2 separate regions of the Homo sapiens genome follow, and region 1 is linked to region 2. Evidence: fine-mapped expression QTL. A gene starts in region 2. The other region holds a variant in brackets. All regions are shown on one strand. Distances are between the middles of the regions.

Region 1 (16,093 bases), 680 kb before region 2:
TTGGCCAGGATGGTCTCGAACTCCTGACCTCAGGTAATCCTCCCGCCTCCACCTCCCAAAGTGCTGGGATTACAGGTGTGAGCCACCGCACCCAGCCAAAGGCACTTTCTTTGAGGAAGGTATGCATCTGAGACTATTCAAGCCAAGCCCCCTCAGTCGGTTTATGGCACACGTGTGTGGCCCTCCTTTTTATTTTTATTTTTTTTTATTTTTACTTTTTTGAGACAGGCTCTCACTCTGTCACCCAGGCTGGAGTGCTATGATGTGGTCCCAGCTCACTGCAACCTTGACCTCCTGGGCTCAAGCAATCCTCCCACCTCAGCCTCCCAAGTAGGAACATAGGAATGTGCCACTGCACCCAGATAGTTTATTTTTATTTATTTATTTATTTATTTTTGTACAGGCAGAGTCTCACTAGGTTGCCCAGGCTGGTCTCGAATTCCTGCATTCAAGGGATCCTCCCACCTCAGCACACCAAATTTCTGGGATTATAGGCATGAGCCACTATCGCCTGACCCCTCTTTGAGCTGAATCCGAAATGCCAAATACATTGGACAGGCACGGTGGCTCACGCCTGTAATCTCAGCACTTTGGGAGGCCGAGGCGGGAGGATCATGAGGTCAGGAGATCGAGACCATGGTGAAACCCCATCTCTACTAAAAATACAAAAAATTAGCCAGGCGCCGTAGCGGGCCTCTGTAGTCCCAGCTACTCAGGAGGCTGAGGCAGGAGAATGGTGTGAACCTGGGAGGCAGAGCTTGCAGTGAGCCAAGATCGCGCCACTGCAGTCCAGCCTGGGCAACAAAGTGAGACTCCATCTCAAAAACAAACAAAAAAGCCAAATACAGACATTTTTCCTGCCCTGGAGCTCAGCATGAGTTAGCATATTCTTTGATCATATTACTAGGAGTAGAGGGTCTGAAACAGAGGAGGGGATCCTACTTTACCCCCGTTCTAGGCCTCTCTAATGAATTGGCAGTTGGAGGAGACATCTTGGGGGTGTGGTAGGACCTGGATCGGGGGAATTCATGCCTCCTTTTTGCAGGTCCTGGAAGCCATACGGGTGACCCGTCACAAGAACGCCATGGCAGAGCGCTGGGAATCCCGCATCTACGCCAGTGAGGAGGATGACTGAGCCTCGGGATGGGGCGCCCACCCCCTGCCCTGCCCTGACCCTCGTGGGAACTGCCAAGACCATCGCCAAGCCCCCACCCTAGGAAATGGGTCCTAGGTCCAGGATCCAAGAACCACAGCTCATCTGCCAACAATCCCACCATGGGCACATTTGGGACTGTTGGGTTTTTCGTTTCCGTTTCTATCTTCCTTTAGAAATGTTTCTGCCTTTGGGGTCTAAAGCTTTTGGGGATGAAATGGGACCCCTGCTGATTCTTTCTGCTTCTAAGACTTTGCCAAATGCCCTGGGTCTAAGAAAGAAAGAGACCCGCTCCTCCACTTTCAGGTGTAATTTGCTTCCGCTAGTCTGAGGGCAGAGGGACCGGTCAAAGAGGGTGGCACAGATCGCAGCACCTTGAGGGGCTGCGGGTCTGAGGGAGGAGACACTCAGCTCCTCCCTCTGAGAAGTCCCAAGCTGAGAGGGGAGACCTGCCCCTTTCCAACCCTGGGAAACCATCCAGTCTGAGGGAGGAGGCCAAACTCCCAGTGCTGGGGGTCCCTGTGCAGCCCTCAAACCCTTCACCTTGGTGCACCCAGCCACACCTGGTGGACACAAAGCTCTCACATCGATAGGATCCCATGAGGATGGTCCCCTTCACCTGGGAGAAAAGTGACCCAGTTTAGGAGCTGGAGGGGGGTCTTTGTCCCCCACCCCCAAACTGCCCTGAAATAAACCTGGAGTGAGCTGCCTGCCTTGGTCCCTGCCTGGTCCGGACAAAGTCCCCTGGGCCTCCACTCTCTGTTTCATTTTCTTGGCGACATTAGGTTCCACCCCGCTAGGCCGTGAGCCTGTGGGGCTGTCAGGTTCCCATGGGGGGGTTGCCAGCATCTGCATGCAGTAGGTGCTTAGCTGATGCTTGTTGAGTGACTGACAATTGATCATGGAGAGGCACCTTCAGCAACACCAGGCCCGGGGCCCAACCTCACCAGCCCGGCTCCTCCAGCCCCGTCTCACCACGTCCATCGCAGTACCCAGGGTGCTTATTAAGCATTTGCTGAATCCCTCACCACTCTGGTCTCAGAGGAGGCCGGAGGGTCATTAATTCGGCTCCGCATGTATACCAGGCTCACATCCAGGGAAGCCAGATCCTACTGGTCAGAGGCGTGGGCGCTGGACCCAAGTCCTGGCTCTGCTGCCTGCTGTGTGGCCTTGGGTGGGGGGGGGTCCTCTCACTGCCCCATGCCTCAGTTTCCCTCTGACACACAGGGATAACGATAGGACCAGGCTCCCGGGCAGTAGGAGTTAATTTACGTAAAGCTCTCGGCACATGGGGACCATTGACGTTGGATTCAGTGCCTGATGGCAGGGGCGTGTCCTCAGACACCCCCCAAAGCAGGCCTCGGCCCCCAGGCTCCCCCAACCCTGCTGGGAGCAGCGGGTGTTAATTACACCTAGGCCAGTGTCTCCTCCTTGGCTGCTCAGTGTCCGCTGCGCTGCCTCAGGGAAAACCGCGCAGCCACGCCGGGCCCAGGCAGGCAGATGTGGAACCGAAATAGCTGGGCAGTGGGGGCTGTGGGGACCCTGGGGAGGCGGGGGAAGGGGGCTGAGGGGCTACATCTGGGCAGAGCAGAGACTGAGGGAGGAGGGAGAGCCCCTGTCTTCAGGGAGACCCCAGTCTGATGGAGGAGGCATCTGCCTTCACAGAGATCCCAGGCTGATGGAGGAGGCCCCTGCCCCCAGGGAGACCCCAGTCTGACGGAGGAGGCATCTACCCACAGAGGGGCCACAGTCTGACGGAGGAGGCCTCTGCCCTCAGGGAGACCCTATCTGATGGAGGAGGCATCTGCCCTCGGGGGACCCCAGTCTGATGGAGGAGGCAGGTTATGTGACCATAGAGGGAGGCTCAGTGGCCATAGTTGGTGACTTCTTTCATGTCGGGGCAATTCTATTCCAACCCCAAGAACCAAACGTGGGGCCTGCGGGAAGGGAGGGCCTCACACACAGTCCTGGGTGAGTCCCATCAGTTTCTCCACTGTCTGCCACCCCATCTTCCCCCGATGCCCCATGTTCTGTCCCTCTGTCCCTGTGCTCTGAGGATGTGTGAGCCTCCACTGGCTACTATAACAAATCACCACCCACCTAATGACTTAAAACAGCAGACATGGTTGGGCGCAGTGGCTCACGCCTGTAATCCCAACACTTTGGGAGGCCGAGGCGGGCAGATCACCTGAGGTCAGGAGTTCGAGACCAGCTTGACCAACATGGTGAAAGTCCGTCTCTACTAAAAATACAAAAAATTAGCTGGGCCTGGTGGCAAATGCCAGTAATCCCAGCTACTTGGGAGGCTGAGGCAGGAGAATCACTTGAACTGGGGAGGTGGAGATTGCAGTGAGCCAAGATCGTGCTATTGCACTCCAGCCTGGGTGACAGAGTGAGACTCTGTCTCAAAAAAAAAAGGCAATCTCTCCCTGTCTCTCTCAGGCTCACCTTCCTGCCTCCTCTCGTGAGGGCCCTATGAGGACACTGGGCCTCCATGTCACCCAGGATGTTCTCCTGTCTCACGGTCCATTACTCAGTCCCATCTGCAGGTGCTTCTGCCACGAGAGGTGACACGGCCACAGGTCCCGGGGATTAGGAAAGGGATGTCTTTGGGGCCATTGTTCTGCCCACCAGAGGATCTCGACATCCCCCTTCTCCGTGACTCTTCAGTCACCTCTGCTCAGGGCCGGCCAGGACTGTTGCACAGGCTGTGCCCTGCACAAGCCCCCTGCCAAGACCAAAGGGCAAGGCTCTGTGTGCGGCCAGGGTCCCCGTCTTCAGTGTCCCTGGCCCTGGCTGTGGCCTGTTGCCAGACACCGCGTCACCAAGGGGTGCATTATTCCCACATCATCCCAGTTGGACGGTCACCTCACCCTGCCCATCGTCCTGCCAGCAAGATGGTCCCACAGCGGCCTCAGTTCTCAGAGGCTCGGCAGGGTCTCCCCTGACCCCGTAATGCCCCTCACTGCCCCTGGGCGCTGGGTTCAAGAAGAACCGCCTGCTTCGTTGCAGGAAGTGATGTCCACCCCCAACTCTGGATCGGAAGCCACGATCTATCCTCCAGACCCAACACCAGGTCCCCAGCCCTTTATCTCTCCTGTCTGTCTGTCCATTTCTGGTGTTCAGGCCTCTCTCTCCACGTCTATCTCCCTGTTTCTGTCCCTCCTGACCTCTCTCTTTTTCCATGATTTTTGCTTTCCTCCCTCCCCGTCTCATCCTAAATTTGTTTTTTTGTATTTTGTTTTTTTTTTGAGACGAAGTCTCGCTCTGTCGCCCAGGCTGGAGTGCAGTGACGCCATCTCAGCTCACTGCAAGCTCCGCCTCCCGGGTTCAAGGGATTCTCCCACCTCAGCCTCCCGAGTAGCTGGGATTACAGGTGCCCGCCACCACGCCCGGCTAATTTTTGTATTTTTAGTAGAGACGGGGTTTCTCCATGTTGGGCAGGCTGGTCTCAAACCCCTGACCTCAGGTGATCCGCCCGCCTCGGCCTCCCAAATTACTGGGATTATGGGCGTGAGCCACCACGCCCGGCCCTCATCCTAAATTCTTAAAACCTGCTCTCCTCTCAGCCATGATTTTCTTTGTCCTGTGCCATAAAGAATTCTCAGAAGCAGGATGCAGCTTCTGCTGCTCAAGGGTGAGCCCAGCCAGTGGGATCTGGTGTCGCTGCCCGCAGACCCCTCAGTCAAGAGCGGGGTGGGGGGCAGCAGGAGCTACAGTAACAGCCCGGATGGTCCTGCTCCTGAAGGCACCCCACCCTGCTGTCCAGAGGAGAGACCGAGGCTCAGACATTTGAGCCCCACATAACCCAGCCTGCCACACACCGCAGACTCCAACAGTGTAGCCCCTGTACCCCAGAAGTCACTTCAGCAAATCACTCAGGGCTCCACCTCACATCTGTCCCCAAGTCCTTGGGGACTTGCTCACTCAGCAGAAGACCAAGAGAAGCCAGATGCAGTGGCTCACACCTGTAATCCCAACACTTTGGGAGGCTGAAGCGGGC[G/A]GATCACCTGAGGTCAGGAGTTTGAGACCAGCCTGGCCAACATGGTGAAACCCCGTCTCTACTAAAAATACAAAAAATAGTCAGGTGTGGTGGTGGGCGCCTGTAATCCCAGCTACCCGGGAGGCCGAGGCAGGAGAATCCTTTGAACCCAGGAGGTGGAGGTTGCACTGAGCCAAGATTGTGCCACTGCACTCCGGCCTGGGCGACAGAACAAGGCTCCGTCCTAAAGAATTAATTAATTAATTTAAAAATAAAAAGAAAATGTGCACTTTCATCTTGTATTATTCTGTCCTTTTGTTTGTTTGAGATAAAGTTTCGCTCCATTTGCCCAGGCTGGAGTGCGTGATCTCGGCTCACCGAAACCTCTGCCTCCTGAATTCCAGTGATTCTCCTGCCTCAGCCTCTCGAGTAGCTGGGATTACAGGCCCACGCCCCCACCATACCCAGCTAATTTTGTACTTTTAGTAGAGACAGGGTTTCTCCATATTGGCCAGGCTGGTCTCGAACTCCTGACTCCAGGTGATCCACTTGCCTCAGCCTCCCAAAGTGCTGGGATTACAGGCGTGAGCCACCTCGCCCGGCCTATTCTGTCCTGTTTTTTTAAGATTTAGTTTGCCGGGCACAGTCACTCACACCTGTAATCCCACCATTTTGGGAGGCCGAGGCGGGCGGATCACAAGGTCAGGAGATCGAGACCAGCCTGGCCAATGTGGTGAAACCCTGTCTCTACTAAAAATACAAAAATTAGCCGGGCGCAGTGGTGCGCACCTGTAATCCCAATTACTCGGGAGGCTGAGGCAGGAGAATCGCTTGAACCCGAGAGGCGGAGGTTGCAGTGAGCCAAGATCGCGCCACGGCACTCCAGCCTGGGCGACAGAGCAAGACTGTGCTCAAAAAAAAAGATTTAGTTTAATTCCTGTAATGAGTCAGCCCCTTGGAAAATCAGACAGAATTCTGCCTGCTGAGCAGACACATTCCAGAAGTTACTCTGTGAGAGGTTTAGACGAATTCCTAGTGAAATTTCCAGGGGCGGGAGAGCGTGTCTGGAAGGTCTGCGGACATCACAGCAATCACAGAGGCCTTTGGGGCGGGCAAAACTGTCCGCTGGCGCTCGCTGCTAGCAGGAGGGAGTTCATATTCTTTCCTGGTTTCCTCCTGGCTCAGTGTATCATGATATGCCAGGGAAAGGAGGAGAATTCTCTTTTTTGTTTGTTTGGTTTTTTGAGACAGAGTCTCACGCTGTTGCCCAGGCTGGAGTGCAGCGGCGCAATCTCAGCTCACCACAACCTCTGCCTCCTGGGTTCAAGCGATTCTCCTGCCTCAACCCCCGGAGTAACTGGGATTACAGGCACCCACCACCACGCCTGGCTAATTTTTGTATTTTTAGTAGAGACGGGGTTTCTCCATGTTGGGCAGGATGGTCTGGAACTCCAGACCTCAGATGATCCACCCGCCTCAGCCTCCCAAAGTGCTGGGGTTACAGGCGTGAGACACTGCACCTGGCCTCAACTCCATTTTAATTAACCCTGCAGGGGCCAGGCATGGTAGCTCATGCCTGTAATCCTGGCATTTTGGGAAGCTGAGGCAGGAGGTGGATCACCTGAGGTCAGGAGTTTGAGACCAGCGTGACCAACATGGTGAAACCCTGTCTCTAGGAAATACAAAAAATTAGCTGGGCGTGGTGGCAGGTGTCTGTAATCCCAGCTACTCGGGAGGCTGAGGCAGGAGAATCACTTGAACCCAGGAGGCAAAGATCGTGGTAAGCCGAGATCGCACCATTGCACTCCAGGCTGGGCAACAAGAGCGAGACTCCATCTCAAAAAATAAAAATAAATAAATAAAAAATAAATAAAAATAAAAAAAATTAGCCAGGCGTGGTAGCGCGTGCCTAGTCCCAGCTACTCAGGAGGCTGAGACACGAGAATCACTTAAACCCGGGAGATGGAGGTTGCAGTGAGCTGAGATCGCGCCACTACACTCCGGCCTGGGCAACAGAGCAAGACTTCGTCTCAAAAATAAATAAATAAATAAATAAATAAAATAAAGAGATTTAGGAGAGGACACAAGCAAACATAACTCAGACTGACTTTGGCAAAACTAGGCTTTATGGGTTCCCGTAACTGAAACATCAATGTAGGGCCAGCTTCAGGCTCAGCTGGTTCCAGGTGCCACACAGCATCCTCAGGTTCCTTCGGTGTTGGGAGCTCAGGCTCCAAGCCCAGGACAGATTCCCAGCTCTGCCACATGCCCCTGAGGGACCCTGGGCAAGGCCTACCCCTCTCCCAGCCTCAGTGTCCTTATCTGTAAGTGAAGTCGCCACATTGACATCCCTGCCCTGGGGGACGTCATGAGGGTCACCGGGCACCTGGTGAAAATCAGTGAGGAATAAGAATGAATGTTGAGGCCAGGTGCGGTGGCTCACGCCTGTAATCCCAGCACTCTGGGAGGCCGAGGCGGGCGGATCACGAGGTCAGGAGATCAAGACCATCCTGGCTAACATGGTGAAACTCCGTCTCTACTAAAAATACAAACAATTAGCCGGGCGTGGTGGTGGGCGCCTGTAATCCCAGCTACTCGGGAGGCTGACGCAGGAGAGTGGGGTGAACCCAGGAGGTGGAGCTTGCAGTGAGCCGAGATCGCGCCACTGCACTCCAGCCTGGGCGACAGAGCGAGACTCCGTCTCAAAAAAAAAAAAAAAAAAAAAAAAGAATGAATGTTGGTTCTGACCAAGTAAATTAACGAATTGTCACCAGACAATGACTTCCATGTGACTTTCTGGTGTGAGCCGGAGAGGAGCCGATGCACGCTGCCACCAGAGGGCGGCAAACACCAAGGATGCAGCCGCGGCCCTCGCCCCGCCAGGGAGAAAACGCACCTGCCGCCACTCTCACCTTCTCATTCCCGTAACCGGATGGTGTTTGCTTAGTGCTCCTTGAAAGCCTGGACAGGGCCGGGCGCGGTGGCTCACGCCTGTAATCCCAGCACTTCGGGAGGCCAAGACGGGTGGATCACTTGAGGTCAGGAGTTCAAGACCAGCCTGGCCAACGTGGCAAAACCCCGTCTCTACTTAAAAAAAAAAAAAAAAATAGCCGGGTGTGATGGCGTTCACCTGTAATCCCAGCTACTCAGGAAGCTGAGGCAGGAGAATTGCTTGAACCTGGGAGGTGGAGGTTGCAGTGAGCTGAGATTGAGCCATTGCACTCCAGCCTGGGTGACAGAGGAAGACTCCATCTAAAAAAAAAAATTATTTGTAGAGATGACAGAGTGAGACTCCATCTAAAAAAAAATTATTTGTAGAGATGGGGTTCTCACCATGTTTCCCAAGCTGGTCTTGAACTCCTCAAGTGATCCTCCTGCCTCATCCCCACAAAGTGCTGGGATTACTGGTGTGAGCCATCGAGCCCAGCCCTGACCAACTATTTAGAGGTTGAAAACAGAGCCCGCAGGGCCGGGCGCGGTGGCTCACACCTGTAATCCCAGCACTTTGGGAGGCCGAGGCCCTCGGATCACGAGGTCAGGAGATTGAGACCATCCTGGCTAACAAGGTGAAACCCTGTCTCTACTAAAAATACAAAAAAATTAGCCGGGTGTGGTGGGGGGCACCTGTAGTCCCAGCTACTCAGGAGGCTGAGGCAGGAGAATCACTTGAACCTGGGAGGAGGCGGAGCTTGCAGTGAGCCGAGATCGAGCCACTGCACTCCAGCCTGGGCGACAGAGTGAGACTCCGTCTCAAAAATAAAAATAAAAATAAATAAATAAAATTAGCCGGAAGTGGCCGAGTGCGGTGGCTCTTCCACAGCAGCCAGAGGGCGCCTGTGAGGCTGACTGGGGGTGTCCCTGCTCTGCCCACAGCCCTCCATGGCTCCCATTTCCCTCTGGGTAGAAGCCCAAGTCCTCCGTGCAGCCCACAAGGCTCTGCCCAGTCCCCTCTCTCCTCTCCCTCCTCTGTCTACTCTCCCTCCTCCCTGTCTCCCCCTCCTCCTCTGCCCAGTCCCCTCTCTCCTCTCCCTCCTCCCTCTCTCCTCTCCCTCCTCCCTCCCTATCTCCCCCTCCTCCTCTACCCAGTCCCCTCTCTCCTCTCCCTCCTCCCTATCTCCCCCTCCTCCTCTACCCAGTCCCCTCTCTCCTCTCCCTCCTCCCTTTCTCCCCCTCCTCCTCTACCCAGTCCCCTCTCTCCTCTCCCTCCTCCCTGTCTCCCCCTCCTCCTCTGCCCAGTCCCCTCTCCTCTCCTTCCTCCCTGTCTCCCCCTCCCTCCTCCCTGTCTCCCCCTCCTCCTCTGCCCAGTCCCCTCTCTCCTCTCCCTCCTCCCTGTCTCTCCCTCCTCCTCTGCCCAGTCCCCTCTCCTCTCCTTCCTCCCTGTCTCCCCCTCCCTCCTCCCTGTCTCCCCCTCCTCCTCTGCCCAGTCCCCTCTCTCCTCTCCCTCTTCCCTGTCTCCCCCTCTGCCCAGTCCCCTCTCTCCTCTCCCTCCTCCCTGTCTCCCCCTCCTCTGCCCAGTCCCCTCTCTACTCTCCCTCCTCCCTGTCTCCCCCCTTCCTCTGCTCCAGCCACACGGGCCTCCTCCCTGTTCCTCCAACTTGCCAGGCGGGGTCCTGCCCCAGGGCCTTTGCCTCCCCAGGTGAGGTCCGGCCCCAGGGCCTTTGCACGGCCATGTCCTCTGCCTGGTTTCCCTTCCCTAGGTACCCACTGGGTTCATTTCTTCACTTCTTTCAAGGCTTTGGTGAACGCTCCCCTCATCACACAGCTGTTGCTCAGTAAATATGGCAGAATAAATAGCTGGGCAGGGCTCAGTGGCTCATGCCTGTGATCCTAGCACTTCTGGAGGCTGAGGCAGGAGGCTCACTTGAGCTCAGGAGTTGGAGACTAGCCTGGCCAACGTAGAGAGACTCCATCTCTACTTAGGGTGACCAGGGGAGAGAACAAAATCATGGGCTCATTTTTTTTTTTTTTTTGAAATGGAGTCTTGCTCTGTCGCACAGGCTAGAGTGCAGTGGTGAGATCTCGGCTCACTGCAACCTCCACCTCCTGGGTTCAAGCAATTCTCCTGCTTCAGCCTCCTGAGTAGCTGGGATTACAGGCACATGCCACCACACCCGGCTAATTTTGTATTTTTAGTAGAGACAGAGTTTCGCCATGTTGGCCAGGGTGGTCTCGAACTCCTGACTGCAGGTGATCTGCCCGCCTCACCCTCCCAAAGTGCTGGGATTACAGGTGTGAGTCACTGCACCCAGCAAAAAATGTTTATTATTCCCATTTCACAGACCAGCAAACTGAGGCCCAGAGGGAGCCGCCTGAGGAAACTGGATTGCGCAGCTGATGGAGTCTCAACCAGAGAAGGGGCCCGTGGGGCCTAGATTCAGACTTCCGGCTGTGCAGGCAAGCAGGAGGGCCCCCCAGTCAGGGTCCCCAGGACACCAACCCCAAGCCAAATGAGGCCACCAGAGGCTGTGCCCAGCCCCAGTCCCGCACGGGGCAGGTGTGGAGCAAATGCTGGCGGGATAGAGGGATGGAGAAGGGGGCTGCCTGGGAGTGAGGGGCTGGGTGCCCCACCCACCTGGCCTCAGCCTCCTGCCCTATCCGAGAACAGAGCTCTGGTTTCCTGCCCGGCAGCCCGTGAGGAGCAGCGAGGCATGGCCAGCTGGGGGCCGGACAGTCCTGAAGAGCTTGAGGACTGGCTCCTGGCTCCTAAAGCATAGCGCCGGCTCTGGGGATCTGCCAGGGAGAGACCAGCTCCAGGGCCCCTGGATGCAGGTTAGAGCTCAGGCTGTCCCCTGATGGCCTCGGTGCTATGGGTGAGTTTCTCCACCTCTCTGTGCTCAGCCTCTCACCGGAGAGGGGGTGGGTGATCCTGGCCTGAGTAGGTGACCAAGGCATCCTCCTCTGTGGCTGGTATTTCCCAACACCCTCAATAAATTCACAGGTGGCTCAGGCCTGTAATCCCAGCACTTTGGGAGGCCAAGGCAGGCAGATCACCTGAGGTGAGCAGTTTGAGACCAGCCTGGCCAACATGGTGAAACCTTGTCTCTACTAAAAATACAAAAATTAGGGCCGGGTGCCATGGCACATGCCTGTAGTCCCAGCTACTCGGGAGGCTGAGGCAGGAGAATCGCTTGAACCCGGGAGGCGGAGGTTGCAGTGAGCCAAGATTGTACCACTTCACTCCAGCCTCAGCAATAAGAGCAAAACTCCATCTCAAAACAAAATAAAAAATAAGGGCGCAGTGGCTCATGCCTGTAATCCCAACACTTTGGGAGGCCAAGGCAGGCGGATCACAAGGTCAGGAGATTGAGACCATCCTGACCAACATGGTGAAACCTCGTCTCTACTAAAATACAAAAAATTAGCTGGGCATGGTGACGGGCGCCTGTAATCCCAGCTACTCAGGAGGCTGAGGCAGGGGAATCGCTTGAACCTGGGAGGCAGAGGTTGCAGTGAGCCGAGATCCTGCCACTGCACTCCAGCCTGGGTGACAGAGCGAGACTCCATCTCAAAAAAAAAAAAAAAAACAAAAACAAATTGGTTTGTTTATTTTCCTGTTGATTTGTGGGAGTTCTTTATATATTCTGGACCTGAGTCCTTGATTACATTATGCACTGCTAGCTAGTACCTTCTCCCAGTCTGGCACTTTCCTTTTGAGTCTTCTTCTTTTTTTTTTTTTTTTTTTTTTTTTCTGAGGCGCCTGCCACCACACCCGGCTAATTTTTGTATTTTTAGTAGATACGGGGTTTCACCATGTTGGCCAGGCTGGTCTTGAACTCCTGACCTCATGATCCACCCGCCTCGGCCTCCCAAAGTGCTGGGATTACAGGCATGAGCCACAGTGCCTGGCCCCTTTTGAGTCTCTTAATGGTGTCTTTGGACAAACTCATTTGTTCAAAATAAAATGCAATTTTTTTTTTTTTAGATGGAGTCTCACTCTATCACCCAGGTTAGAATGCAGTGGGACAATCTCTCCCAGGCTCAAGCGTCTCTTCTGCCTCGGCCTCCTGAGTAGCTGGGATTACAGGTGGGTGCCACCACGCCCAGCTAATTTTGTGTATGTTTAGTAGAGACCAGGTTTCACCATGTTGGCCAGGCTGGTCTTGAACTCCTAACTTCGAGATCCGCCTGCCTTGGCATCCCAAAGTTCTGGGATTACAGGCATGAGCCACTGTGCCTGGCCATGTTAGGATATTTCTTTTTTTCTTTTCTTTTCTTTTCTTTTTTTTTTTTTTTGAGAGTCTCGCTCTGTCACCCAGGCTGGAGTGCAGCGGAGCCATCTCGGCTCACTACAAGCTCCGCCTCCCAGGTTCATGCCATCTCCTGCCTCAGCCTCCCAAGTAGCTGGAATTACAGGTGCCCACCACCACGCCCAGCTAATTTTTTGTATTTTTAGTAGAGACGGGGTTTCACCGTGTTACCCAGGATGGTCTTGATCTCCTGACCTCATGATCCGCCCGCCTTGGTCCCCTAAAGTGCTGGGATTACAGGCGTGAGCCACCGCGCCCGGCCCATGTTAGGATATTTCTGAGCAAATCTGAGGGTTTGGCCTGGAACCCTCAATTTGAGGTTGCAAACCCTGTTTCCTGCTAAGCCAGACAGATGGTGCTGGAGATGGGGAGGCCATGGTTTATGTTTTGTCCACTCTGGGTGCTGCCTGGACAGGTGACTCATGCATGTGGCGGAGCAGTCCAGAGTGAGGACTGTACCCCTACAGACACTCCCCCAGACCATGCTGGTGGCCTGAGCTGGGGGCTGCCCAAGTCCCCTCCCCGGGATCCACTTCTGGGGCCTCCCAAGCCTTCCCTGGGGTCAGTGAGTGCTGGAAGGGCAGCCAGCAGTGTGTGTCCACGGGGGGGGGCGGGTCACCACTTATCTGGGCATTAAATATTTGGGGGGGTCTCAAAATAATGGAAAACAGGGGGCCAGAAGTGGTGGCTCATGCCTGTAATCCCAACACTTTGGGAGGCCGCAGTGGGAAGATCGCCTGAGGTAAGGAGTTCAAGATCAGCCTGGGAAACATAGCAAAACCCTGTAATGAAAAACCCAAAAATTAGCCCGGCGTGGTGGCAGGTGCCTGTGATCCCAGCTACTCGGGAGGCCGAGGCGGGAGGACTGTTTGAGCCCAGGAGGTTGAGGCTGCAGTGAGCTATGATTGCACCACTGCTCTCCAGCCTGGACAACAGAACGACCCACTTTCTCAAATAAATAAATAAATAAATACGCTGAGGCCAGGCGCGGTGGCTCACGCCTGTCATCCCAGCACTTTGGGAGGCCGAGGTGGGCGGATCACGAGGTCAGGAGATTGAGACCATCCTGGCTAACATGGTGAAACCCCCGTCTCTACTAAAAATACAAAAATTAGCCAGGCGTGGTTGCGGGCACCTGTAGTCCCAGCTACTCGGGAGGCTGAGGCTGGAGAATCTCTTGAACCCGGGAGGCTAAGGTTGCAGTGAGCCCGAGATCACACCACTGCACTCCAGCCTGGGTGACAGAGTGAGACTCTGCCTCAAAATAAATAAATAAATAAATATTAAAATAAATAGGGCCGGGCACGGTGGCTCACACCTGTAATCCCGGCACTTTGGGAGGCTGAGGCAGGTGGATCACGAGGTCAGGAGATCGAGACCATCCTGGCTAACATGGTGAAACCCCGTCTCTACTAAAAATACAAAAAATTAGCCAGGCGTGGTGGCGGGCGCCTGTAGTCCCAGCTACTCGGGAGGCTGAGGCAGGAGAATGGTGTGAACCCGGGAGGCGGAGCTTGCAGTGAGCCGAGATCGCGCCACTGCCCTGCAGCCTGGGGGACACAGCGAGACTCCGTCTCAAAATAAATAAATAAATAAATAAATAAATAAAAATAAAATAAAATAAAATAAATTAATTAATTAAAATAGAGATGAGATCTGCCTCTGCCGCCCAGGCTGGAGTGCAGTGGCGTGATCATAGCTCACCGCAGCTTCCAACTCCCGGGCTCCAGCAATCACAGGACAAACCTCCCGCCCGGCCCTGCAGCCAGGTGCTCACACCAGCCCTATTTATAACAGGAATCCATGGAAATTTCTGGCCCCACCAAGCTGCTGTCATGAATAAGTCATCGTCCGGATCAATGATTCCACCCAGGGAGCATCTGCAAGTTTCCACCTCGTTCTCCCTGGGCCCCGGACAGCCTGGCTGGGACGTCAGAGCTACCAGTCAGGCTGCGGAAACAGCCTGGGGGTTCCTCTGTGACCAAACCATTCCACGCCGTGGTCTCTACCCAGAGAAAGGAAAACACAGGTCCATACGCGTGTTCGAGGCGGCATGATTCATAACGAACAAAAGGAGAAGACAGGCCGGGCGCAGTGCTTCATGCCTGTGATCCCAGCACTTTGGGAGGCCGAGGCGGGTGGATCACGAGGTCAGGAGATCGAGACCAGCCTGGCCAACATGGTCAAACCCCATCTCTACTAAAAATACAAAAGTTAGCCGGGCATGGTGGCAGGTGCCTGTAATCCCAGCTACTCGGGAGGCTGAAGCAGGAGAATTGCTCTAGCCAGAAGGGTGGAGGTTGCAGTGAGCCAAGATTGTGCTGCTGCACTCAGCCTGGGAGTCAGAGCGAGCAAGACTCCGTCTTTAAAAAAAAAAAAAAAAAGAAAAATTCAGCCGGGCGCGGTGGCTCACACCTGTAATCCCAGCACTTTGGGAGGCTGAGGCGGGTGGATCACAAGGTCAGGAGTTCGAGACCATCCTGGCTAACACGGTGAAACCCCGTCTCTACTAAAAATACAAAAACTTAGCCAGTCGTGGTGGCGGGTGCCTGTAGTCCCAGCTACTCGGGAGGCTGAGGCAGGAGAATGGCGTGAACCCAGGAGGCAGAGTTTGCAGTGAGCTGAGATTGCACCACTGCACTCCAGCCTGGGCAACAGAGCGAGACTCTGTCTCAAAAAAGTAAAAAAAAAATAAAATAGATGTATATAAAATATATAAATAAATATATATAAATATATATATAAATATATTTTTTCTTTTTTTTTTGGATGGAGTTTTGCTCTTGTAGCCCAGGCTGGGTGCAATGGCGTGATCTCGGCTCACTGCAACCTCTGTCTCTCGGGTTCAAGCAATTCTCCTGCCTCAGCCTCCCAAGTAGCTGGGACTACAGGCGCCCGCCACCACACCCAGCTAATTTTTATATTTTTAGTAGAGACGGGGTTTCACCGTGTTAGCCAGGATGGTCTCGATCTTCTGACCTTGTGATCCACCCTCCTCGACCTCCCAAAGTGCTGGGATTACAGGCGTGAGCCACCGCGCCCGGCCTATTTTTTAAAAGATTATGGATTTAGGGCACCTCCTCCCTTCTCCTTTTAGCCCCAGATAACATTCCATTCTCGATGTTTATCTGCTCGCCTGCCGAAGGACGTTTTGGTGGCTTCCAGGGCTGGGCTGTTATGAATAGCAGAGCTGCAGGCCGGGGGCGGTGGCTCACGCCTGTAATCCCAGCAGTTCAGGAGGCCAAGGTGGGAGGGTTGCTTGAGGCCAGGCAATCGAGACCAGCTTGGGCAACACAGCAAGACCCCAATCTCTAAAAAACATACAAAAATTAGCCAGGCATGATGGTGCACACCTGTGGTCCCAATGGTTCCAGCCACTCAGGAGGCTGAGGTGGGAGAATCACTTGAGCCCAGGAGGTCGAGGCTGCAGTGGGCTATGACTGCACCATTGCACCTCAGCCTGGACAGGAGGACAAGACCTTGTCTCAAAAAAAAATTTTTTTTTTGAGAGGGAGTCTCACTCTGTCACCCAGGGTAGAGTGCAATGGTGAGATCTCGGCTCACTGCAACCTCCACCTCCCGGGTTCAAGCGATCCTCCTGCTTCAGCCTCCAGGGTATCTGGGATTACAGGCGCCTGCCACCACGCCCAGCTAATTTTTGTATTTTTAGTAGAGATAGGGTTTTGCCATGTTGGCCAGGCTGGTCTCAAA
Region 2 (11,726 bases):
CCAGGGTTATAAGCTTGGCTCCAGTACAGCCGGGAGACCCCCAGGCAGCATGAGTCGGTGGGACTGGACCTGCCTGGCTGGTGTCCAGAGGGGCCCGTAGCCAGTGGGACGGTGCTGCACGTGGTCGTGCCTCAAGCCCTCCACTGCACCGGGCGCCCTGGCCAACCCTGCCAGGAAGTAAGGAGACCGGGGAGGCCACTGAGGGCCTGGACCTGGCTGGGTAGTCAGAAGTGGGGGCAAGTCTTGGCTGGCAGCCCCTGAGATGTGTAGAATGTTTGAAAATTCGCCTGTGGGTTGACCTGAACCCACCGGGCTTGAAACCAACGGTCCAAAGTTTGGAGTGTGGTCTTAAGGAAGGAGACCACTACTACTCCTGCTGCCTTCCTCCCACCACCTTGCCTAGTTCACAAGACAGGAGGAGAGAAAATGCAAAAAGTTGGAAAAAAAATGCAAAAGTAAGATAAACAGACAACCTTGGCACCACCACCCGGCCCTAGGAGTTAAAAAAAAAGTAATAATAACATCAACCACTGACCTAAACTACTTGTGTTATCTGTAAATTCCAGACACTACGAAAAAGCATTGTAAAACTTTCTGTTGTGTTAGCTGATGCATGCAGCCCCCACTCACGTTTTCCACACTTGCTTGATGTATCACGACCCTTTCACGTGGACCCCTTAAAGTTGTAAGCCTTTAAAAAGGCCAAGAATCTCTTTTTCGGGGAGCTTAAGACGCGAGTCTGCTGATGCTGCCGGCCGAATAAAAACCTCTTCTTTAATCCAGTGTCAGGAGTTTTGTCTGTGGCTCATCCTGCTACAGTCTGGCTGCTAGGTGGCCGCCGGAGGTCTCTGGGCAGCACTGGCCAGGTTCACTTCAGCGTGAACAGCAGAAGCTTGTACGGGACCCAGCTTCGAAGGCCCACCCCAGGTCCAGCTCAAGGAGAGGGAGGGAAGGCATGTGTAGGCAGGGTTCATTGTAGTCTCGGTTGTCAGCATTCAGAATTCTTTTTATTTTTTGAGACAGAGTCTCGCTCTGTCGCCCAGGTTGGAGTTGAGTGGCACGATCTCGGCTCACTGCAGCCTCCACCTCCCAGGTTAAAGCAATTCTCCTGCCTCAGCCTCCCGAGTAGCTGGGATTACAGAAGCACGCCACCACGCCTGGTTAATTTTTGTATTTTTAGTCGAGACAGGATTTCACCATGTTGGCCAGGCTGGTCTCCAATTCCCAACCTCAGGTGATCCGCCTTCCTCGGCCTCTGAAAGTGCTGTGCTCCAGCCTGGGCGACGGAGACTCCGCCTCAAAAAAAAAAAAAAAAAAAAAAGAAATTGCTGAGGTGTTAGGTGCTTTTCGCCTCAGATAAGCAAAGTGGGAAATTAGTGGATGTCCCACTGAAACAGCTTTATCTGCAACATGGTTTTCAACCCTGAGCCTTAGAAATCAAAAGTGCCGGAAACCATGGTGCACACTTGAAGTCTTTACCGAGGCCCCGTCTAAAAAAAACAAATGGAGCCGGGCGCGGTGGCTCACGCCTGTAATCCCAGCACTTTGGGAGGCCGAGGCGGGCGGATCACGAGGCCAGGAGATCAAGACCATCCTGGCTAACATGGTGAAACCCCATCTCTACTAAAAACACACACAAAAAATCAGCTGGGCGTGGTGGCGGGCGCCTGTAGTCCCAGCTACTGGAGAGGCTGAGGCGGGAGAATGGCGTGAACCCGGGAGGCGGAGCTTGCAGTGAGCCGAGATCGCGCCACTGCACTCCAGCCTGGGGGACAGAGCGAGACTCCGTCTCAAAAAAAGAAAAAAATAAATAAATGGAAATGACAGAGCTTTTGAGCTACCAGGTCTATCTGCAGAGCAAATGACACAGAGATGTGTGGGGCCGCGCCCATCATGAGGCAGCTAGCTGGGAACAAGCCCCAGGGGGCCCTCCCTGAGGAAAGCATAATAGGAATGGGTGCTGGGCCTCACTTCGCTTTTGCAGAGCTTTACTGGCACCCAGCTGTGCCCATTCATACCTGTATTACTTCTGCCAGGCAGACGCTGAAAATTTACTGTCTGGACCTTTACGGGAAGTTTCCTGTCCATAAAAGCCCTCCCTGCACACGCCCCTGCTGGCTAGCACGTGGCTGCTAATGGGTACTTCCCTTGGTTTTCTGCAGTTGGAATCCAGCATGTGTGATCAGGGAAAATATGTATTAGTATTTAAAGCAAAAAGATACCCCCAGTTCAGAGAGACACATGTCTTGGTGGCCAGGTGGTGCCCTAGGTCCACAAGAATTTGGGGGGTGTCCAGGAGGTGGGGTGGGAGCCTCTAACTAGCACTAGGGTGCCACTGTCGAGGGCCACTCCCAACTCAAGGCCCAGGCTCTGTCTTTAGGCCTCTCTGGCCATATCCGCACTTCTTTTTTTTTTTTTTTTTTTTTTTTCTGAGACGGAGTCTAGCTCTGCCGCCCAGGCTGGAGTGCACTGGCAGAATCTCAGCTCATTGCAACCTCCGCCTCCTGGGTTCAAGCGATTCTGCTCAGCCTCCCGACTAGCTGAGACTACAGGCATGCGCCAAGACGCCGGTTAATTTTTTGTATTTTTAGTATAGACGGGGTTTTGCCATGTTGGCCAGGCTGGTCTCGAACTCCTGACCTCAAGTGATCCACCCGCTTCGGCCTCCCAAAATGCTGGGATTACAGGCGGGAGCCACCGTGCCCGGCCCCACGCTTCTGTTTCTACCCTCTGGTCCCACACCCCGCTCCAGAATCTGCATGGACTCTCCCAGACCTGCCCGGCCCCATCTGTGCCGTCTCAGACAGACAGCTCCGTCCTCATCAGGTTCAGGTCTGGCCCCGGCGCTTGCGGGTCAGCTGCCTTCAGGCCCTGTCCTGGTTCCCGGCGCTTCTCACATCCCCGCGGCCTCCCCCCTGGACGGCAGTTTACACTGAACTCGGCGCCCTCCCCTGACTTCTGAAGGAGGAGTCCTGGGTGGCCCCGAAGCCTCCCCGGCAGCCGCACGGCTCCGTCCCCGCTCCAGGGTTCAGCTGAGGCACCTGCTGGAGGCGGCCTGTCCCCGCCGCCCTGCTAAAGCGGCGCCCCTTTCTCCGGCCGCTCGTTCTTTGGTTTCCAGGGACTTTGCACAATTCATAACACCCCTCTTAGCCCCCATCCTGCCCGGGCCGCATCTTCCGCCCGATCATCCGGCCCTCGACCCGCGCAGCCGCCTCCGCCCTCCTCTCCCGGCACCGCCCACGGCCTGTTCTCCCCGCAGCCGCCAGCGGGCGCCCGCGAGCCTGGAGCCGGGCGCGGCCCTGCTCTGTCCACAGCCCGCGGTGGCTCCCACCTCCCGCTGGGCCTGCGCGACCTGCCCCCCGGGGCCTCCCAGCCCTCACTGCCCTCGCGGGCTGCACTCTCCCCCAACACTCCCCAGGGCTGTTCGGCCTCCCCAGCAGCTCCCCATGCCCTGCCCGCCGCGCTGGCGTCTCTCCCAGCCCGCTGCAGTCCCCTCGTTCACGTCAGCTTCCCAAGGGCCTGGATTTTGTTTTGTTCAGTGCAGGGGGACCCAGCACACAGTAGGTGCTTTATAAATGCTTGTTGCATGAATGTCCGCGTTCGGTGTCGCCCCCTTACGGCGGCCCCCCGCGCGCCCAGCTCGGCGCCCAGCAAGCCTTGTGCGCGCAGGTGATGTTTGCTGAATGACTAATGAACCTCAGCGCGCCAAGCCGGGCTGATTCGGGGGTGGTTCCGAGCTTCCGCAGGGTGACCGTCCGCGGGCAGCGGACCACAGCCGCATGGCGACGCCGCCTCTGGCCCCCCGCGACCCCCATTCCCCGTGGGACCTCTCGTGCCCCCACCCCCACCCGGCCTCCTCCCCGCCGCCTCGGGCCCCCCCAGCCTCCTCCGCATTCGAACTCCCCAGCGTGGTCGGACCCGGACCCTGGCGCCGCTCGGCCCACGCGAGTCCCCTCCCCTCTCTCCCATCCTTGGATCTCCCACCGCCCCTCCGCAGCCTCGGTCCCGCGAGACTCCCCAGCCCCCGCGAGCACCCCCAGACCCCACGGTACGCCCTCGCCCCTTTCGGGAGGAGCCCCGCCCCGGGCCCGCGGACTGACCCCTCCCGCCCCTCTCCGCGCAGGCGCAGGGCGGCCCCGTTCGCGTCCCGCACCCCCACCCTGGCCGCCGAGGGGCGGGGCGCGGCGGGTCCGGGGCGGCCGCGGCTCCATGGGGCTCCTGGGGCTCCTGAGCCTGCTGCACTCGGCCTTCTTCGGGGACCAGGTAGGGCGCGTGGGTCGAGCCGTTGGGGAGGGCTCCGGGCCGCGCAGGAACGGGGCGGGGTCCACACCGCGGGAACAGCGGGCGCGGCGGCGGGGGGCGCATGGGGCGAGCGCGCGGAGGCTGCAGAGTCGGGGGTCTAGTGCCGTCGCCGTAGAGACCGTTGCCGGGAAACCGCCTCGGAAGGCTGGCGGGGATGGAAGCCCCTCTCGTGCGCCGCTGCGACCCCCAGCCCCGGGTCTGCGCAAGCGCAGGGCTCGCCCAGCCCAGCCCTCGGCCTCTGCAGGAGACCCTCGGACCCCTCCTCACTGCGCCGACGCGGAGGCTGCGCCAGCTGGGGCGGCGGGGGCGGCTGCGGGGGCATCCTGCGGAGGCTCGGCCCTGCGCAGGGTGGGGGCCTGGGCCACGCCCTGCGCTTCTTTGGGCCTCAGTTTCCCCTTCTGGGCGCGAGCGTATGGCCTGCTTTGACGTTCGCCGCCGCTGCTGTTCGTATCCGTCCGCTCCCGACCCCAGCGCTTCTCCAGCCTCCGGAATCGTCTGAATTTCGCGGCTGTGACATCCCTCATTGGAGGGGAAACTGAGGCTGGGGGGTGCAGCGGGGAGCCCAAGGTCACGCTTCGAGGCCGGAGCCTCGTTGCGGAGCTAAGGCGCCCGCAAGAGAACGCGGGGCGGGGGCCGGGGAGCTGTCCGCGGTGCTGACGGAGGCGCACGTCTGCCGACTCGCCGCCGGGGAAACTGAGGCCCATAGCGGCGGTCAGGCTTCAGGGCGCGGCCTGGACCGGCCTACCCCACCCTCCCCCACCTCCGGTGGCCTCCTCACCGGTCAGGGCTCTGCCCGGCCACCCAGCCGGCGGCGGGCCGTCTCTATCCTCCCGCGATGACCTGGTGCCTTCTCTGTCCCCACCCAGCTCCCGATGGGGGCCGCCCCTGTTTCTGCCTCTAGCCCCTGGCACAGAGGAGGCATCAAGGGGGCGGGGACAGCTCGAGGTCAGACTCAGAAGGCTCAAAGACACTCCAAGAGTGAGCCGTGTGCCAGGCTGCGGACTTGCGGGGAGGTGTCACAGGACAGGGGTGGGGGAGTGAGCATTTCATGGAACTTCCCCTTTAGCCCAGCAGCAGTAGGGGGCGTGGAGGACCCCAGGGAGGAGCCTAGGTCGGGGTCTTGGGCTAGGCCCTGCGTTCTGCAGTGGGAGAAGGGGGAGACCTCTCTCAGTCTCCTGAAGTCCTAGGGGGCTGTGGGGGGTTCTTGAGGCTCTGAAATGTCTGGTGATGTCTGAGTGTGGCTGTGGTTCAAGGATTTACAGGGTCGAGGATTTTAGTGTGTGGGGGGGGATTGTTCAGGGACATAATGTTTTGTAGATTTGGGGCCAAGGGCATCTTGTCTTGGGGTCTCAGCCCCCATGTACCCTCAGCCCTCCAGGCCCTGGCCACCCCCAGAGGGATAAGAAGGGAGGTTCAGTGTCACTCCGGAGGCCTGGCTGGCACAGGTGAACTCAGGCAACACGTTCCCTGGCCCAGGCCTCAGTTTCCCCATGTATACAAGGACAGGACTGACCTTGGATCCCCCAAACCCCTGCCTGATGGGGGCCTGGGGAGCTGAGACATCTGAAACTACACAGGGAGGTGGGACTTAGTTCCTCTTTGGGGGAGGCAGGGATCATCCAACCCACCCTTCAGTAAACAAGACTGGAAACCGAGGCCAGAGAGAGACATGCCCAGGGGGACACAGGGACAACAAGGCTGAGCTGAAGCCAGGGCCCTGGGCTCTGCATCCCCAACCCCATTTCAGCCTCGCCCAGCTCTGCCCCGGCTTGACCTGTCAAACCCCACCACGCGCCCTACCCCATGGCTCCACCAGACACCCCCTGTGTCCCAAGCATGCATTGATCTTCCCTCAGCCTGGAACGCCTCTCCTCCTGATCACTGCTGTTCACTTCTCAGGGCAGCCTTCCAGCCTCCAGAAAAAAATCCCCTTCGAGGCGGGCGGATCATGAGGTCAGGAGTTTGAGACCAGCCCGACCAACACGGTGAAACCCCCTCTCTATTAAAAATACAAAAATTAGCTGGCAAGGTGGTACATGCCTGTAATCCCAGTTACTGAGGAGTCTGAGGCAGGAGAATCACTTGAACCCAGGAGGCGGAGGTTGCGGTGAGCCGAGATGGCGCCACTGCACTGCAGCCTGGGGGACAGAGCAAGACCCCATCTAAAAAAAAAAAAAAAAAAAGGCCGGGCGTGGTGGTTCACGCCTGTAATCCCAGCACTTTGGGAGGCCGAGGCGGGTGGATCACGAGGTCAGGAGATCGAGACCATCCTGGCTAACGTGAAATCCCGTCTCTACTAAAAAATACAAAAAATTAGCCTGGGCGTGGTGGCGGGCGCCTGTAGTCCCAGCTACTCGGGAGGCTGAGGCAGGAGAATGGCGTGAACCTGGGAGGCGGAGCTTGCAGTGAGCCGAGAACGTGCCACTGCACTCCAGCCTGGGCTACAGAGCAAGACTCCGTCTCAAAAAAAAAAAAAAGAAAAAAAAGAAAAAGAAAAAAGAAAAGATCCCCTGTGTCTGCCCACTGCATTGCCTCCCCAGACCCAACCAGTGGGGACAGCTGCGTCCAGCTCTGGGGGCTCCCAGACAGCCAGGCCGAAGGGCTCTCAGCCCCTGGCAGTGCTGGCCCGGGACAAGGCCCTCGGGTCTTCAGCTCAAGGCCCAACAGGAAACAGCACGGGTCCTCCCTTGCCTTTGTCTACGGGGCCTTGAATACTCGGACCTTCCCACCCTCTCCTATCATTCCCTGCACCAGCCCTTGCAGAATCTTCCGCCTCCTCTCCATTTTACAGAGGAGGAAACCGAGGGTTGAGCGGCGAATGATTTGCCCTGCCTGCCCAGCACGGAAAAAAATCACTCTTCTGGCCCCAGTCGCCTCCCTTTCTGTGCTGTGAGTCTGTGTCCAGAGCAGGAAGGGCTGCTCCGAGCTGCAGGGACGGGCTCTGTGTGTTAAACCTTCAAATGGCTTCCAGGGACTCATGGAGCATCCAGGACACCTGGAGATGGCGACTCCTGGGACCCCTGGCCCTTCCCTCCTCTGGCCTTCGGTCCGTGAGGGTGAATTAAGTGTGCCACCCACCAGGGGCAGAGACACATGGAGACAGAGATTGAGAGACAGAGAACAGAGGGGGAGACAGAAAGAGAGAGGGACATGAAGAGCAACGGAGTTACAGGAGGATCTGACGCTCCGTTGGGGAGACAGGGAGAAATGTGGGGAGATGCAGCGTCCCAGGTGCTCCCCAGTGGCCCTGCCCCTCCTCCCCTCTCCCCTCCCCACCAGGCAGGACCCTCAGGGAGCTCCAGCCTGGACCCGAACCCTGTCCCACCCTGACGCACCTGCACCAGGCCAGGCTGGACCTGTGGGGTGGGTGCAGGCCTGGCCCCAGCCCGGCCACTGCCCTGGAAACCCCTCCCCCGCCAAGATGCTGATGTAACATCCAGGATTTGATGTTTTACTCTCCAATTCTGCAAATCCAGACGCAGGAGGTTTTAAGAGGCCGTTGCACCCTGCAATAAAGTGCGGGACACAGGAATCTTGGTCCTCGGGGCACCCCCTTCCCTCGGGGGGGTTTCGCCCCCCGCACTCACGGCCCCTGAGCCCGCGCGGAGGCCCGACGCCCCGCGGCCGACGCCGGTCCCCGCCCCGGGCCGCCATTGGCTGTTGCCATGGCACCAGCCCGTCTTCCCGCGCCCTCATTGGCTGTCTCACCCGCATCCCTCATCCCGCATCCTCCCCCGCTCGCGGTGGTCTCGCCCAGCGCTAGGAGCGGCAGCGCCGCCTGCCCAGGCCCGGACCGGGCTTTGTCCGCCCCGGAGCCCCTGCCCGCGCCGCGGAGACCCCGGAGCCCGCGCGCTCCGAGGCCACCCCGGGCCGGGATTTCCGGTGGGGCCCGCGGAGCCGCGCAGAGGGAGGAGGCCCCAGACCCAGGCGCCCCGCCAGCCCAGCTGCACGTAAGCGGGTGTGTGTCCTCGGGGAGGAGGGCAGGGGCGCGACCTCCGCCTCGCGTCGAGGTTTCCATCCCTGGCTCTCAGCATTGCCCGTCAGCACAGACTCTGGACCCTCCATTTCCCCAGAGTGGGAGCTGGAGGGGAAACTGAGTCCCGGTGAGCTGGGCGTCAGCGTTTCTGCAGCCGGTCCTGCGCACACACCCACTCACGGGCTTCACCATCCGGACCTCCCTGAGGTGATCGGAGGAAGGGATGGGCAGGCCAGTGGTGTGTCTTCGGGGGTGTTGCTGCACCTCTCTGGGTGTCAGTTTCCCTCTCTGGAAAGAGGGGGTTTGGATTAAAGGAAGGAGAAAGGCCCCTTTGGGCCTGGCTTCCCATACCTGTGCCTCCCTCCCCTGAAATGCAGCCCGCTCAATAAGACCAGCCCCCAGTCATGGTGCCTTCAGGGAGTGATCGCTCAGGAAGGCCCCCAGGAGGCTACACGATGCAACCTGGGGGTGAAAGTAGGCAGAAGAGCTTCGTGGAAGAAGCTGCACTGTGTGGGATGGCAGGACTTAGAAAAGGTGCTCTAGGCAGGGCAACTGCACGTGCAAAGGCCTGAGAGAAGAGAGCCTCCAGCCTCTAAGTGAGTCGCGGTGTACATGGAGGAGTCGGAGCGTATCCTGAGGGCACTGGGGAGCCATGGAAGGTGTTTGAGCATGGGAGAAATGGGATCTCACTTGTGACGTTTAAAGCTCCCTCTGGCTGTGCATGGGGGACTGTGGGAGGCCAGGAAGAGGCTGATCAGAATGTCCTCACAGAGGGGTGTCAGGAGCTGGGGGAGGCATGATCCCGCTGGGCAGAGCTTGGAGGGACTAGCTTAGTCTGATGAGGATGCAGAAATGACCACCGAATGTGGGGAGAGGGAAGGTGTCTGAGGCTTGGCTTCGGTCAGCTGAGAAGAACCACGTGGGGGAGGCCTGGGTTTGGGGAGCAGGAGGCAGACATGTGTTGCTTTGCACGTCATCTGGTCCTTCCACCTGGCTGGGCATGGGATGGTGACCTCAGCTGGAACATGGGGCTCGAGCCAGACCCCAGGGTCTCCCTGCGTGTAGCCCCCAACCCCAAGCCTGATCCCCACTGGAGACCTGAACAGCCTTGGACATCATCGGATCAGGGTGGGAGGTGCCAGCCTCTGCCACCTGACTTCCAGTCCCTGTGCCCCTCCCACCCTGCCCTTGGGCACTCCTGCCCTGCAGGTTCCTCAGAGGGGCAACCCAAAGCCAGAGAGGGGCGGGTCTTGTCGGGCCTCCAGCCTGGACTTCCCAGCCCCTCTGGGGCAGCATCTGGGTGCCAGACCTCGGTTCCTAGGGCCTCGTTTCTCCCTCTGGGAACAGCCAAATGGTGGTCCCTGAGACTCAGGACAGACCAAGAAGGAGCCGGATGACATGGCAAGCCACACACTGCGTCCCCTGAGCAGGACGGGACAGCCCGACTCCATCCTCCCACCTGCGACTGAGCCCCCACCCCTACTCCTGTCCCAGCCGTGCCCCTGGTGACATTTGGGTGGGAGGGGAGGGGATGAGGGGGCACCTGGGGGTCAGAGAACAAATGACGGGTGAATACATGTGTGTGGCCAGGTGGAGGAGGGAGGGGAGGAGCAGGTGGGCTGGACAGGGCCGGTGTGAGGAAGGGGCTCAGGCTGGCAGGGGGAGGTGGCAGAGGGATGGGCTGCCATTGGTGCGTCTGAGACAAAGGCGGAGGGAGGAGGCGAGCGCTGATGGGAAAGGAACAAAGAGGGAAGGGGGGCGTGAAGGGGGGCTCCGGCGGGAGGGCCGAGCCGAGGGAGGAGGCGCCGGCCAGCTGGACAGAGGGAGGAGGCCAGGCCAGAGCCAGAAGACGGCCAGAGGCACAAAGAAGCCAGCGCGCTGGCAGAGTCAAGGGATGGGGCAGGGGCTGCCGGGGCCAGCAGGGACCAGCTGAAGGCTGCGCAGGGGGTGCGGGCCACACAGGTAGCCACCCTGAGCTCAGCCACCGATGGAGGGTCGTGGGGCTGCTGCGGTGATGGCGGTGGGCTTGGGTCCATCTGTCCTGCCGTTTCTGCACAGCTTAGGTGTCACCCACTGGCCTTCGTGGTGTTTTCATTGTCCATCGGCAGGGACAGCTGGTGGTCTGTCCGCCCCGCGTGTCTGGCTGTCAGCCTCTGGGCAGGCTTGCTTTTATGGGGGAGGGTCCTGTCTGTCTGTCTGTCGCCCTCTCTGGCTGTGAGCCTGGGGGTGCTGGGCTGGCCAGTCGGCTTGCTGGGTTAGGCTGTCCCAGCTGTCTGTGTGTTTGTCCGGCTGTCAGGATGTGTCCTGGGGGCTGGGAAGGAGAGGCCGACCCATCGTCTGTCGGTCGACTGGTCAGTTGGACGTTCAGCTGTCTGTACGTCTGTCTGCTGGCCCCTCTGTCTCCCCTTGGGGCCACCTCTCACTCCACCTGCCCCTCTGCGCCCCGGATTGCCTGGCCACCACCACGTGGGCCTGTACTTGTCCACACCAGTGACTCCTGCCTGAGACCCCCCCCAACCCAGGATCAGGCAGGACGGCTGGGGCTTAGGTCAGGGGCCGTCTGTCCGGAAGGCATCACCGCGCCCTCCCCAGACCATCAGCTGAACCCTCTGACCCTGTGATCCCAGACGCTGCAGGAGCTGAAGATGGCGAGCTCCGTGGCGCCCTACGAGCAGCTGGTGAGGCAGGTGGAGGCCTTGAAGGCTGAGAACAGCCACCTGAGGCAGGAGCTAAGGGACAACTCCAGCCACCTGTCCAAGCTGGAGACAGAGACGTCGGGCATGAAGGTGGGGGCCTACATGGAGGAGGTGGGCTAGGGTCCCGGGGTGGTGCCCCCCGGCAGCCCAGTGCAGTGGCTGATGGCTTCCCGCCCTCTTTCCCGCCCCTGCAGGAGGTCCTGAAGCACCTACAGGGAAAACTGGAGCAGGAGGCCCGAGTGCTGGTGTCCTCGGGGCAGACGGAGGTGCTGGAGCAGCTGAAGGGTGAGCGGTGGGGCCACCCGCAGAGGGAGTGGGGGAGGCTGGGGGGAAAGGCAGGCAGGGCCGCTGACCTCCGCCCTGTCCCCGCCCATCCAGCCCTACAGATGGACATCACCAGCCTGTACAACCTCAAGTTCCAGCCGCCCACCCTGGGCCCGGAGCCTGCCGCCCGGACCCCCGAGGGCAGCCCAGTACACGGCTCCGGGCCCTCCAAGGACAGCTTTGGGGAGCTGAGCCGGGCCACCATCCGGCTGCTGGAGGAACTGGACCGGGAACGGTGAGTGGGCGTGGGAACCCAGCCTCGGGCAGCTGGAGCATGACTCGGTCCCCAGCGGGCTCTGCCCTCTAATTCGCCCACCCGCATATGTCTCTGCCCACACCTCACACGCCCCACCCACTTGCATATGGCACTGCCCACCGAACAACCCCGCCCACCTCGGAGCTTCGTCCCCACGTGGCCTCCCTCCCCC

What was found. PIP is the estimated chance that this variant, and not a neighbour inherited with it, causes the effect.
Region 1: its variant is fine-mapped to the expression of APC2 in cerebellar hemisphere (GTEx, PIP 0.95).

Annotation. Positions count from the first base shown.
Region 1 is chr19:762,456-778,548 of GRCh38, forward strand. MISP (mitotic spindle positioning) reads left to right here. Exons shown (of 5, transcript NM_173481.4): 5 at 1,046-1,863. The coding sequence ends at 1,135. Among named protein-coding and RNA genes, the nearest start is that of LINC01836, 12 kb to the right of the region's middle. The variant G/A (reference allele first, on the strand shown) is at 5,157.
Region 2 is chr19:1,442,079-1,453,804 of GRCh38, forward strand. It overlaps APC2 (APC regulator of Wnt signaling pathway 2), which reads left to right and starts at 8,043. Exons shown (of 15, transcript NM_005883.3): 1 at 8,043-8,260; 2 at 10,906-11,064; 3 at 11,169-11,259; 4 at 11,353-11,533. The coding sequence starts at 10,924. RefSeq lists silencers at 3,153-3,542, 3,593-3,692, 4,153-4,202, 4,852-5,146, 7,890-8,089 and enhancers at 9,932-10,565, 10,566-11,197, 11,198-11,726.